2 linked regions of the Homo sapiens genome follow. The protein of the gene in region 1 interacts with the protein of each later gene in a biochemical or structural test. Each region holds a gene or a part of one and is shown in the gene's direction. Other genes may lie near its edges.

Region 1 (7,338 bases):
TGCTCTGAATGCCAGGTGGTCTTGGGCTTTCTGCCCCAGACCTTCACACCATCCTTCTCCAGTCTCTCTTGTCAACTGAAGAATGCGGTTCATATGTTTGGAAAGGAGGGCTTTATTTCTCATAACCGGTTGCAGCTTGCAGGGTGGCCATTCTAACAGGCTGGGAAGTGTAGCCTCCAGCCAGAAGCTGGAAACAGACACTTCAAGAGAGGGAAGAATAAGACAGGGATTTACACCGAATGGGGTGGCTGATACAGACGTACTTAATACGCTGTAGGAGGATCATGAGTATTCATGAAAGGAGAACTGTGCACACAGTTGAGCTTCCTGCCTCTTCACGGGTCCTATGTGCAAAAAATGGCAGTGCCAGCATGACCTGAGGGTGGAATTTTTGGCCTCTGAAGTCAGAGGTGAAGCAGGCTGGGTGAAGTGGCTCATGCCTGTAATCCTAGCACTTTGGGTGCCCGAGGCGGAGGATTGCCTGAGCCCAGGAATTCGAGATCAGCCTGGGGAACATAGTGAGACCCTGTCTCTACAAAAAAAGTAAATAAGTAAATAAATAAATAAATGGCAAATCAGAGGACATGAAGACTGTGCCACGAAAACCCTGACTGTGCCAGAACCACTCCATGGTTGGTGGTTTCTTATCAGGAAATACCTGTGGGTTGTTTTGAAGAAACCGCAAGAGAGAAGGGCCTGGCGGGAGGTTGGCTGATGTCAGATACCAGCCCAGGGGTCTTTGGAAAGGGCTGCTTTCTGTTTATCCCTTAGGGAAGAGAGCCTGCAGATGTGTCTGATCTCCCACCCAGCCATGGCCAGGAACTCAGCTTTCAAGGTTTCTGGGGTCCCCTGGGCCAAGAGGAGGCTGGTTCAGTTGGTTGGGGGGGGCTTAGGGTTTCATTTTTATTTCTTTTTTATTTTATTATTTTTTGAGGTGGAGTCTCGCTCTGTCACACAGGCTGTAGTACAGTGGCGCTATCTCGGCTCACTGCAACCTCTGTCTCCCAGGTTCAAGTGATTCTTCTGCCTCAGCCTCCCGAGTAGCTGGGATTACAGGCGTGCGCCATCATGCCCAGCTAATTTTTGTATTTTTAGTAGGGACGGGGTTTCACCATGTTGGTCATGCTGGTCTTCAAGTCCTGACCTCAGGTGATCTGCCCGCCTTGGTCTTCCAAAGTGTTGGGATTACAGGCATGAGTCACTGTGCCTGGCCATTTTTCTGAAACAGAGTCTTGCTCTGTCACCTAGGCTGGAGGGCAGTGGCATGATCTCAGCTCACCGCAACCTCTGCCTCCCGGGTTCAAGCGATTATTGTGCCTCAGCGTCTTGAGTAGCTGGAATTACAGGCACGTGCCACGCCTGGCTAATTTTTGTATTTTTAGTAGTGACGGGGTTTCACCATGTGGACCAGGCTGGTCTCAAACTCCTGACCTCAAGTGATCCGCCCGTCTTGGCCTCCCAAAGTGCTGGGATGATAGGCGTGAGCCACTGCACCTGGCCTCATTTTTCTTTCTTTTTTTTGAGACGGAGTCTCGCTCTGTCGCCCAGGCTGGAGTGCAATGGCGCGATCTTGGCACACTGCAACCTCCGCCTCCCGGGTTGAAGCACTCCTCCCACTTCAGCCTCCCGAGTAGCTGGGACTACAGGCCTGTGCCACCATGCCTGGCTAATTTTTGTATTTTTAGTAGAGACGGAGTTTCACCACATTGGCCAGACTGCTCTCAAACTCCTGACCTCAAGTGATCTGCCCGTCTGGGCCTCCCAAATTGCTGGGATTACAGGCATGAGCCACCGCGCCCAGCGCATTGTTACTTCTCAGTGTTCACCTGCCCGTGGTCTGTGTGGTGGTGTCTGGTGGGAACCAGTGAGTGCGATTTTGAGGCAGGTCCTGCAATACCATAGCCATGTTTTCAGGTGCCCTTTTCCTCTGCTAATGGTACCACTTGCTTACAAAGTGCAGCCGGTGCAGAGGAATGCAGCCCCAGGCGTGAACAGTGCCCTCCGCTCCAAGGTTCCCAGCCTGCCTGCCCTCGGGATCCCCCGATCTGCTATCCTGTCTTGACGTAGACATTTCATGTGGCAATTTCCAGACTCACTTTTCTGGCCAGTGTTGATATAGCAAAGTTTGTTCTCTCTTAATTCTTCCAGATGCCCCTGGGCTGTCTGAACTCTCTTCACTAGTTGTCTCCGACAGCAGCTTGCATTTCCAAAGTGAGGCCAACCACTTTGAGTATATTCAGATTTTTCTTTTCTTTTCTTTCTTTTTCTTTCTTGTTTTCTCTTTCTTTCTTTCTTTCTTCTTCTCTTTTTCTTTTTCTTCCTTTCTCTTTTCTTTTCTTTTCTTTCCTTTCCTTTCCTTTTTTCTTTCACAGAGTTTTGCTCTTGTTGCCCAGGCAGGAGTGCAGTGGCATGATCTTGCCTCACTGCAGCCTCTGCCTCCCGGGTTCAAGCGATTCTCCTGCCTCAGCCTCCCGAGTAGCTGGGACTACAGGCCTGAGCCACCATGCCCAGCTTATTTTTTTGTATTTTTAGTAGAGATGGGATATTTTTGTATTTTCAGTAGAGACGGGGTTTCACCATGTTGGTCAGGCTTGTCTCAAACTCCTGAACCTCAGGTGATCCGCCTGCCTCGGCCTCCGAAAGTGCTGGGATTACAGGCGTGAGCCACTGCGCCCGGGCAGTCAGGTTTTCTGTGGTGGCTCCAGCCGTGACGGCCGGGGTCTGTGACACTCCAGCTTCCGCGAGTGCAGCAGTGTTCACGCCCCAGTCGTTCTCTCTGTGTTTTCCGAGCGTCTGCACTGGGGCTGTCAGCACCCCAGACTCTGAAGGAGCAGCCCCCTCGGCGTGCACCGAGGCCCACATCTCCCTTTTTCCTGCTCCCTTCTGCTTGCAGGAGGCCCCATATGATCGGGGACCCGCCTTGTGCCTCTGCAGGTCATGACGTCCCGCTGTTGGGGAGCTGCCACAGGACGTGGATGGCGGGGCGTGGATGGCGGGGCGTGGATGGTGGGACGGGGATGGCGGGGCGTGGATGGCAGGGCGTGTCAGGCTCTGCAGGGCAGCAAGTGTGCTCTGGTCTGTCTTGCAGGTTTCAGAGGAGCGTGCTCGACCTTTCTCTCCAGTGGAGATTTGCCAACCTGCCCAACAATGCCAAGCTGGAGATGGTGCCCGCTTCCCGGAGCCGTGAGGGGCCTGAGAACATGGTGGGTCGTGCTCTGGGGGAGGCTGACTGTGTGGGGCACAGGATCGTTCAGCTGGCCAGGGACGGGGGACGGGACAGTGGGGGGTGCTGGGGAAGGAGGGACATGAGTCTTAGCACCAGTTCTGCCTTCCCTGGGTTGGGCCCAAACAGCTTCCTGTTTTTTGATAACTGGCAACTGAAAATGAGCATCTCATGTTTTTTTTTTTTTGAGCTGGAGTCTCGCTCTGTCGCCCAGGCTGGAGCTCAGTGGCGCAGTCTCGGCTCACTTCAAGCTCCGCCTCCCGGGTTCACACCATTCTGCCTCAGCCTCCCGAGTAGCTAGGACTACAGGTGCCCGCCACCACACCCGGCTAATTTTTGTATTTTAGTAGAGGCAGGGTTTCACCATGTTGGCCTGCTGGTCTGGAACTGCTGACCTCATGATCTACCCGCCTCGGCCTCCCAAAGTCCTCCCAAAGGATTGCAGGCGTGAGCCTCTGCGCCCCGCCCACGTCATTCTTCATGTGGAAGTTTTTCTTTCTTTCTGGGGTCAGTTGTGCCTTCCCTGGCTCAGGGTGTCAGCAGCATTCACCCACCAGCCTGACCACCTGCTCATAGAATTGCCCAGAATGTTAGAGCCGAAAGCGCTGCATGGATGCCGCAAGGGCAGCCTGTAATCCCAGCACTTTAGGAGGCCGAGGCGGGCAGATCACCTGAGGTCAGGAGTTTGGGACCAGCCGGCCAACATAATGAAACCCCGTCTCTACTAAAAATACAAAAATTAGCCGTGGGTGGTGGCGGATGCCTGTAGTCCCAGCTACTCAGCAGGCTGAGGCAGGAGAATGGCGTGAACCCGGGAGGCGGAGCTTGCAGTGAGCCGAGATTGTGCTGCCACTGCACTCCAGCCTGGGCGACAGAGTGAGACTTTGTCTCAAAAAAAAAAAAAAGAGCAGCAAACATTTACCATCTCATGTGGCTTCTGAGGGTCAGGAATCTGGGAGCAGCTTAGCTCAGTGTCTGTCCTGAGGCTGCAGTCAGGTTCGGTGGAGCTGCAATCTTTTGAAGCCCCCACTGGGACACGAGGACTGTCTCCAACACAGTTCACTCCTGTGGCGCCTGCATGTACCCACACACACCCACACACACCCCCACACACCCACATACCCGCACACCCGTACACACCCCCACACACCCCTGCACACACCCCACACACACCTGCACACCCCCGCACACACACCCCCCACACACACCCACACACACCCCTACAGCAACGTGCACACACCCCCACACCCGCACACACCCGCACACACCCCACACACCTGCACACACCCACACACCTGCGTGCACACCCCCCCACACACCTGCACACACCGCCCACACCAACATGCACACACCTCCCCCCCACACACACCCACGCACACACCTGTACACACACACCTACACATCTGCGCACATACCCGCACACACCTGCATGTAAACATGCACACACACGCACATCTGCACGCACATGCGCACACCTGCACACACCCACACACCAACATGCACACATCCACACACATACCTGCACACAACTGCACACCCCCGCACACACCCACACACACATATGCACACACGCACGCACACCTGCACATACCTGCACACTCACATGCACACACGCATGCTGGTGCAGCCCTGCCGGGGAGCCTCCAAGGCCCTCACTCCAGAGTGAATAGGAGGGTAGCCTTCTCCGTGGGGGTCAGCCTCTCCCTGGAGGCCAGGGCGGGGCAGTCACCCTCTCTGTGTCTGGAGAATCAGTCTGGGATTTAGAAGGAATAGTTGCTTTTCTTCCTAAGGAAGTTTCTCATGTCTTATACCCTCCAGGTTCGCATCGCTTTGCAGCTGGACGATGGCTCGAGGTTGCAGGACTCTTTCTGTTCAGGCCAGACCCTCTGGGAGCTTCTCAGCCATTTTCCACAGATCAGGTGAGCATCAGTGGGCTGGGGGCTCTTCCCTACCCTGTTTGCTGGGGAAGCTGCTGTGGTTACTGGGTCTGGTTCAGAGCTGGACACCCAAGCTCTGTGCTGGCCTGTGGTGCCTCTTGGCACTTTGCAGTCCTTTGTAGAGGAGGGGTGTGTGGGCTGCCGGTTCATGAGCAGCAGCCTCGGGGATGGCTGGTCACAGCTCATCGTTCTGAGTTTCCTGGGCCCAGCGGCCCAGCCTTGCCCACCTAGAAGAGCAGGAATGTGCTTCTGTCCTTGTGGGGGCCTGGTGAGCACTAAGGGGAGACGTTCGGTGCTGGGGGCAGGGCTCCCCATGCTTGATTCCCCTGGATGGGATCATAAGGTCTCTTTTTTTTAAGAGGCAGGGTCTCACTATGTTGGTCACCTAGGCTGCTCTTGAACCCATGGGCTCAAGAAATTCTCCCATCTCAGCCTCCCAAAGCGTTGAGATTACAGGTGTGAGCTCCTGTGCCCCACCAGAAAATCTTCCTAATAGTAATTGGATGGCTGGGCACAGTGGCTGGGCACAGTGGCTGGGCAAAGTGGCTTGCACTTTGGAAGGCCGAGGCTGGCGAATCGCTTGAGCTCATGAGTTCAAGACTAGCCTCGGCAACATAGTGAAACCCCTTCTCTACAAAAAATAGAAATGTTAGGCCAGGCATAGTGCATGGTGGTGCGTGCCTGTGGTCCCAGCTATGCCAGAGGCTGAGGTGGGAGGATCACTTGAGCCGTGGAGGCAGTTGCAGTGAGCCGAGATCGCACTGCTGCACTCCAGCCTGGGCAACAGAACGAGACTCTGTCTCAAAAAAATAAATAAATAAAAATAAGTAATTGATGTGTATCAGTTTCTGTCGGTTAATGGTTTAAACGTTGTTCCTGAATGTGTAAAAATTGGTGCTTTGTCAATTTGGGTCTTTTCATCGTTGGCTGGAAGTCTCTGTCCACAGTAAAAGGCTCAGCAGAATGGAAGGGACTTGGGGCTGGGGTTTGCTGTGAGCCAGGGGGTTCTCGCCCTCCCCGGGCCTCAGTTTCCTCACCTGTGCCCCGGCTGGTGTGTGGATGGGGTGAGTTCATGTCTTGAGGACCGAGCATAGGGCCTGTGGGAAGGTGACCGCGCGTCGGGCGCTGGGAAGGTGACTGTGCGTTGGGCGCGCTTGGTGGCCCCAGGGCTGGGCCTGCTCCCGTCTGACAGTAGTGCCGCGCTGCATGGCACGGGTGTTGCGTTCGTGGGTGAGAGCGCTGAGGTCTGCACGTCGGGTCTCAGTGGTCATGGGGATGGAAGCCACCCCAGTGGCTGTCGGGGTGAATGGAGGCCCCTGGAGATGGCAGCGGGTTAAGCACGAGCACGGAATTCTCCCTCCCAAAACGGAACTCAGACAACAGTGACGGAGCCTAAGAGCAAAGCCAAAGCCACGGGCAGGGGTGAGCGGGACCCGAGGCAGGAGATGACGGAGCCTAAGAGCAAAGCGAAGCCACGGGCAGGGGTGAGCGGGACCCGAGGCAGGAGGTGACAGAGCCTAAGAGCAAAGCGAAGCCACGGGCAGGGGTGAGCGGGACCCGAGGCAGGAGATGACGGAGCCTGAGAGCAAAGCGAAGCCACGGGCAGGGGTGAGCGGGACCCGAGCCAGGAGTGGCGCCGGGCAGGGAGGCAGGCAGCCCCAGGCGCTGTGTGGGCACTGGGTGAGAAGCAGGGATCCCGGCGCCCTGGCTCTGTGCTGCTTCCTGAGACGAGAGTGGCAGAGGGCAAGAAGAAAACCAAACAGCGCGGGGAACAGAAGTCAGGAAAGATGAACGTCTGGAAGGAAATGCCCCTGGGCCGGGCGGTGCCCCCGGGCGTGAACAGAATCCAGTGCTCCCACAGGCACAGGTGCTTGGTGAGGGCCGTCCTCCCTGGCTGTGCTGTCAGTCCTCAGATGGGGATGGAGGTAAGGAAATGGCCCAGAGTGGCCTGGGGCTGCCACTGGGGAGGGGCCGAGGGTGTCTGGAGAGGTGGGGCCGGCATTGTGGTAGCATAAGCCTCTTCAACAGACTTTGTAAACCTCGTGTGAAACTTAGTTTAAGAAACAACAGGCTTGGCCAGGCGTGGTGGTTCTGGAAGTGGCTTTGGAGCTGGCTTTGGTGGTGGCTGTGGGGGTGGGTTTGGGCGCTTTGGAGGAGGTTGCAGTGAGCCGAGATCGC
Region 2 (7,182 bases), on another chromosome or scaffold:
AAAAAAAAAAAAAAAAAAGGTCTCTGATTAGGATGGTCTTTCTTTGGAAGTTACTACAGTGTATTTAGACATGTTTTGTTTTGATTTGTGAAAGGCTTTTCAGGGAGCAGAATCTCATTAATCATAATTAAATAGTACACCTTCATTTAGCTGAAGTACCCATCATGCCCCAGGCACTATGGTTGGTGCTAGAGACACAGAAATAAATACACACTCCCTGCAGAAAGCTTACAATTTAATGGGGGAAGATAGATAAACCAATAGTTGATACAGTCTGACAAATGCCATGGTAGAAGTATCGATCACAAATTGTGATAAAGGTTTATCTTATACTGTGAATTGTGGTTAAACTAGTCTTTTTCTCCCCCAGAGTCTTTCTTTAGTTCATGTGGTAGTTTACATAAACTAAGTGAAGAGCCCCTGATTCCTCCTCCTCTTCCTCCTCGAAAAAAGTTTGATCATGATGCTTCAAATTCCAAGGTAATCAACAGGACTTTACTCCAACTTATTCAAAGTTGTGAATCTTCAAAATAATGCCTAGTGTTATAAAGAGTCTGTGAATTATACTTTGGCTACCATTTATGGTTTTTCAGCATTTGGGTTGTTATATTTGAAAAATACTTTTAGTTGTTTAATCCTTATAAAAACCTTTTCTAAATAAGAGGCTGGGCCGGGCGCAGTGGCTCATGCCAGGCGGGTAGATCACCTGAGATCAGGAGTTCGAGACCAGCCTGGTCAACATGATGAAACCCCATCTCTACTAAAAATACAAAAAATTAGCTGGGTGTGGTGGCGGGTGCCTGTGATTCCAGCTACTGGGGAGGCTGAGGCAGGAGAAGCGCTTGAACCTGGGAGTTGGAGGTTGCAGTGAGCCAGGATCGTGCCACTGCACTCCAGTCTGGGCAACAATTGCAAAACTCTTGTCTCAAAAAAAAAAAAAAAAAAAAAAAAGGCTGGTTGGGAGGCTGAGGCAGGCAGATCATCTGAAGTCAGGAGTTCAAGACCAGCCTGGCCAATATGGTGAAACCCTGTCTCTACTAAAAATACAAAAATTAGCCGGGCATGGTGGCGGGCACCTGTAATCCCAGCTACTCAAGAGGCTAAGGCAGGAGAATCACTTGAACCTGGGAGGTGAAGGTAGGTTGCAGTGAGCCAAGATCGCACCATTGCACTCCAGCCTGGGCGACAGAGCAAGACTCTGTCTCAAAAACTAAAAATAAAAATAAAAAAATAAAAAAGAGGCTGGAAGTACATTTTCTTTCTGGTACAGGTGGAAAAAAACTTCAGTAGTATTCCAAGTATTCTTCAAACTTTCAACTAATGCTTCTCAAAATTTTAAGGGTGCATCAGAATTACCTGAAAGGCTTGGTAAAATCAGACTGTGGAGCCACACCTCCAGAGTTTCTGATTCAGTAGTCTAGGATGGGGCCCAAGAATTTGCTTTTCTAACAAGTTCCCTACTGATGCTGATGTTGTTGGTCTCTGGATCACACTTTGAGATCTACTGCTCTAAGCCTCACTGGAGAAAGTAGCAGTAGATGCCCAGTAAGCAGAAGCTAGACATTAAAGTCCTCTAGACATCATGTCCTTTCATGTCTATAAAGCAATAAATTATTGTCACTTACCTACTATTATAATTAAAATACATAAATTTCTGAAATGTATACACAAAGCAAGATAAAGAGTTAGGACCTAAGACTTAAATTAAAACATCTCATATATAAAAATATTAAACCCAGCCCTGAATTAATCTAGGAGTACTCATAATCTGATAATTAACCCAGATTAGTTTATTTTGAGCCTCTGAATTTAACTTGACAAGTAAGAATTTTTCAGACTTAAAAATTTTTTTTTTTAATTTTTCAGAATAGAGGTATAATTTAATTACTTTTTTTTTTGAGGGAAATATGAAATCTGATGATGATCCTCCTGCTATTCCACCGAGACAGCCTCCTCCTCCAAAGGTAAAACCCAGAGTTCCTGTTCCTACTGGTGCATTTGATGGGCCTCTGCATAGTCCACCTCCGCCACCACCAAGAGATCCTCTTCCTGATACCCCTCCACCAGTTCCCCTTCGGCCTCCAGAACACTTTATAAACTGTCCATTTAATCTTCAGCCACCTCCACTGGGGCATCTTCACAGAGATTCAGACTGGCTCAGAGACATTAGTACGTGTCCAAATTCGCCAAGCACTCCTCCTAGCACACCCTCTCCAAGGGTACCGCGTCGATGCTATGTGCTCAGTTCTAGTCAGAATAATCTTGCTCATCCTCCAGCTCCCCCTGTTCCACCAAGGCAGAATTCAAGCCCTCATCTGCCAAAACTGCCACCAAAGACTTACAAACGGGAGCTTTCGCACCCCCCATTGTACAGACTGCCTTTGCTAGAAAATGCAGAAACTCCCCAATGACCTTAGCCATATGTAGTCATTGACACTGGAATGGTATTTGTAAAGTTTTTTTTTTAATTTATTCAAAAAAAGACATAGTATTTTAGTACTTTTTACAAATAATGCTCTTACAAAAATGCTACTGATCAAATAAGCTTTTAAGAATTGGAAAAATAAAAATACAAAAGTCCTTCACCATTATCCTCAGGTGATCAGTAGCATTGCCTTGTCTTGGATCCTCAGTGCTGCCAAAAGGCCAGTATAAAGAATTTATATTTGCACTGTAAACTCTGCAAAAATATGGTTTAAAGTGACATGATTGCACTGAAAAGGGATAGTGCTTTTGTGAAATTTTTCAAATTTGAGTAATAGATGCCTTTTTAAGGCAGTGAATTTACACAAATATGGGAGGGGTATATGGTGTTACTGATTTTTAAACCTCTTTGACCATCTTCTAGTTTTTACTTCTAGTTTTTACATCTAGGAGAATTGTGAATAACACCAACTGTTCTTAAACTCTTTAATGCCATGTCTTAAATGCCGGTATTTGCTGCTGAAGACAAAAATGAAAAGTAGGATGAAAATAATAGAATGGCACTGTAAGTGTTTATTATTTTGTCAAAATGTAAACAAAGACTACATAACCCAATGATGGAGGGAAAAAGGGCATGTATCTCATTCAGATGTGCCTTTTGTTTTTGCAGACTATGACGTCTTTAGCTAATGAATTGCCTATTGTTATGGAAAACAGTTAATATGCCATGTATGTACAGTTTTGTTTATATTGTATATTTAAAGATACTGCTAATAACCTATATAAATTTAAGTGACTTGAGGCCTATAATACAATCTGCTACTTTACTAATTCATAAATTCAAAAAAAATTCTATGGCATAGGAACCAACTGCCTTGCCTTCAAGACCTAGTAACTTTCTCTATAAATCTCGTGTTAACTGAAATTTTTTTTAAATATATTTTTTAGATTGGTAATATTTAAACCAGCAAATACTTAAAGCTTTATTAAACATTTTAATCAGATAAGTGAGTAAAGCTTTTATTTGCCATTTGGATGCCTTCGTTCAAAGTGATAGAGTGTTTTGCTGATAGTGCTGTAGCAGCAGTTGTAAAGTAGCCAAAAGCCACGTTGTTTATTTACTGGTTTGTGGCCTTTTACTGTGCTTTGTATCAGAGTTCTTAACAAGATTAATAAATCACCCCAGTCTTAATTTTTAAAAGACTTTTAAAATATGTGTTTTCATTATAAGGAACAAAGGGGGAGATTGTTGAGTCCTATAGACACACACACACACACACACAATTTTTTCTTCACTGTTAAATGTGAGCTGCAGGCTTCTAGCAACCACTTTTATGAATTCATACAAAAAACTAGGAGCATACTAGGAACTTGAAAAGGAAGATTGTAAGATTATAGCCATCTTTGGTAGGATCTTGGAAGCTGATTGCATTTAAGCCTTGTAACTACTATGTAAATCAAGTGTCCAACTTGGTAAACTCTGAGGTTGGCTTTGTTTTTTAAAGAGCAGATTATAATAGTTTTGTCTGGGAAAGTGATTTAAACGGCCTCTTCGTTAAGCCAAACGTGTGATTTAGGGTAGAGGGAGGCTGCCAAGCGCGTCGGGTAAGCAGGGGCCCCACGCTCGGCCCCGCCCAGGTAACGCTGCCTTCCGGGCTTTGTTAACTCGCGCGCGCTGCGTCGCCAACTCAGCGGCGGGCAGGGGGCGGAGCCGCAGGGCGGGGCGGTGCGCGTTGATGTGACGTCCCTGCGCGCGCCGCTTTCTGTTGCCGGGCGCAATGGCGGATACGCTGGAGTCCTCGCTGGAGGACCCACTGCGGAGCTTTGTGCGAGTTTTGGAGAAGCGGGATGGTACAGTGCTACGACTACAGCAGTATAGCTCCGGTGGCGTGGGTTGCGTTGTGTGGGACGCTGCCATTGTCCTTTCTAAATACCTGGAAACGCCCGAGTTTTCTGGCGACGGGGCCCACGCGCTGAGCCGGCGGTCGGTGCTGGAGCTGGGTTCGGGCACCGGGGCCGTGGGGCTCATGGCTGCTACCCTCGGGTAAGAGCTGGCGGGCGGGCGGGATGTGGGGGCGCCTTCTTGCTGGGGAAATCCGGATTACAGGCTTTCCCCCCTGTGCCTACACCTCAGTCGACGTTATTTTATAGGGCTGATGTTGTAGTCACCGATCTTGAGGAATTGCAAGACTTGCTGAAGATGAATATTAATATGAACAAGCATCTTGTCACTGGTTCTGTTCAAGCCAAGGTACTGAAATGGTTTGTATGGCCTTTCAGCTTGTTTTAAGATATTGATTTGTAGTTTGTTTTGAATTGCGTTTCATTAAAAGGATGGAAGGGGACTTTCCGGTTCTTTATAAAACAAGAGTATTTTGAATTATTAAAACAATTGAAATATTTGTTTGGCATTTTTAAGGGGGGAAGAAATAGAAGGCTTTCCTTCTCCACCCGACTTCATACTGATGGCCGACTGCATATACTATGAAGAGGTAAGTATCCAGTGAGCGAAGTCTCTTCACTTAGAAGATGAACCTTATTCCATGAATTCTAAAGCACACGTTTCTTCACATTTTAACATCTTTGAATCCGGGATTTGCCTTATAGTTGATGCAGTAAAGAGAAGATAAAAGTCACCAGGGACCATATGTATATACGCTCATCATTATCATACCGACCTGGTGAAGCATGTTGAGAAAAGTGTTATATGCATTTTACTAGAGGCTTCTGTAAAAATTTTAAAGGATTTTGCCAATTGGATGTTATGAAAAGCCAAAATCCTCTCTTTTTCCCTTGGTTGTTCCCACGGAACATGTTAACCATGACATTGAGAATTAAGTTATAAATAATTCATTGTTCTTTTCTTTAAATACCAGTTTGGGCCGGGCGCGGTGGCTCACGCCTGTAATCCCAACACTTGGGAGGTCAAGGCAGGTGGCTCACCTGAGGTCGGGAGTTCGAGACCAGCCTGACCTACATGGCAAAACCCTGTCTCTACTAAAAATACAAAATTAGCCAGGCGTGGTGGTGCATGTCTGTAATCCTAGCTATTTGGGAGTCTGAGGCAGGAGAATCGCTTGAACCTGGGAGGCGGAGGTTGCAGTGAGCCGAAATCATGCCATTGCATTCCAGCCTGGGCAACAAGAGCAAAACTCTGTCTCAAAAAAAAAAAAAAAAAAAAAAAACATCAGTTTGTATAGTGTTGTGGGCATCGATTATTTTAAAAATAATTAGCATTGAACCAAGTTAGGGTCAGATTTAACTTTTGTAGGGAAATCGTTGATTATTTAAATCCCAAATTAGATTAAATAAAATTAAACTTTTAAGAGTAAGGTTGATTCCATTTGTTTCCCATGAGAACTCCAAAATGCAGTCATCTGAATCCTTTTTCTGGAAACCAAAATCAGTACATGGTTTAGTTAACAGGAGCTTACCCAATCATTAGTTACAGAGGGGTTTTTGTTTGTTTGTTTTTGTTTTAAGATAGGGGTCTTGCTCTGTCACACATGTTGTAGTGCAGTGGAGTGATCATAGCTCACTGTAACCTCGAGCTCCTGAGGCTCAAGTAATCCTCCCATTCAGCCTCCTCAATAGCTGGGACTATAGGTGTGCACCAGCATGCTGGCTAATTTTTAAATTTTTTGTAAGGTGTTGCGGGGGGTGGTTTGTCTCTCGCTGTATTCTCCAGGCTGGTCTTCAACTCCTGCTTTCAAGCGATCTTTCCACCTCTGCCTTCCAAAGTGTTGATATTACAGGTGTGAGCCACTGCACCTAGCCTAGAGCTTTAATTACATGTGCTTTGTTGGATTGATTCAAAGATGGATAAATTGTAGGGGAGCTATAAATACCCCTGTACCTCCTCAACCTACTTTTAGAGTAGAAAAATTTTTAAATCAAAAACAAAAAATATATTCTTTTTTAAATAGTCTTTGGAGCCATTGCTGAAAACTCTAAAAGATATCAGCGGATTTGAAACTTGTATTATATGTTGTTATGAACAACGAACAATGGGGAAAAATCCAGAAATTGAGAAAAAATATTTTGAGGTAAGTATTAAGTACTCTATTATCTTTGTAGTGATTTCCCTTCAGGGGGGCTGTATGTGACTCTTCAAGTATATTATGGTAATTTTGGGTGGGGAAAACATGCTGTTTGTGTGAAGCTGAGGAAAGGATCTTCACAGCCCATGATTCTACGAAGCTCCCCTTTTTCATCTTTTCTGATACTTTATTTCATTTCTAATTAGTTGATCTATGGCTACAGAAGAATGTTAATACGGGTGCCACTCCTTTTTAAGAACAGTTTTCAGTGTTTATTAAACATGATGCTGCCTTTGGGGAACATCTCAATGATGTATGTATTACCTTTGGAGAATACGTGATAGAAATGTGCAGGTGATAAGTTGTTTTTGTTTTGAGACAGGGTTTCACCCTGTAGCCCATGCCGGAGTGCAGTGGCACAGTCAGGGCTCACTGCATCCTCAACCTCCTGGGCTCAAGTGATCCTCCTGCCTCAGTGTCACCCCCCCCCCCCCCCGCCCCCAAGTAAGTGGGACTATAGGCATGTACCACCACACCCGGCTAACTTTTTGTATTTTTTTGTAGAGATGGGGTTTTCCCATGTTGCCAAGTGATAAGTTTTTACTTCTGTGTTTTTCTCTACATATTTATGAAACCTCCAACCTAGATACCTGTCTATTTTTAGGGTCTTTTTTTTTGTTTTTTAAACTTTTTGTCTGAAATAGTTAGAAAAGACTTA

The links.
Region 2: the proteins of ASPSCR1 (region 1) and VCPKMT form a complex in vitro, tested with the Homo sapiens proteins (one study listed by BioGRID).

What each region holds. Positions count from the first base shown.
Region 1 is NC_000017.11:81,980,466-81,987,803, forward strand, and holds part of ASPSCR1 (tether containing UBX domain for GLUT4), read left to right. Parts: intron 1-3,088; coding exon 3,089-3,203; intron 3,204-5,041; coding exon 5,042-5,142; intron 5,143-7,338. UniProt on the Homo sapiens protein: Tethering protein that sequesters GLUT4-containing vesicles in the cytoplasm in the absence of insulin. Modulates the amount of GLUT4 that is available at the cell surface. Enhances VCP methylation catalyzed by VCPKMT.
Region 2 is NC_000014.9:50,113,573-50,120,754, reverse strand, and holds the start of VCPKMT (protein N-lysine methyltransferase METTL21D), read left to right. Parts: upstream 1-4,182; 5' UTR 4,183-4,202; coding exon 4,203-4,468; exon of another isoform or gene 4,469-4,575; coding exon 4,576-4,686; intron 4,687-4,843; coding exon 4,844-4,916; intron 4,917-6,350; coding exon 6,351-6,470; intron 6,471-7,182. Other genes in the region: SOS2 (son of sevenless homolog 2), read left to right, coding at 371-480, 1,902-2,411. UniProt on the Homo sapiens protein: Protein N-lysine methyltransferase that specifically trimethylates 'Lys-315' of VCP/p97; this modification may decrease VCP ATPase activity.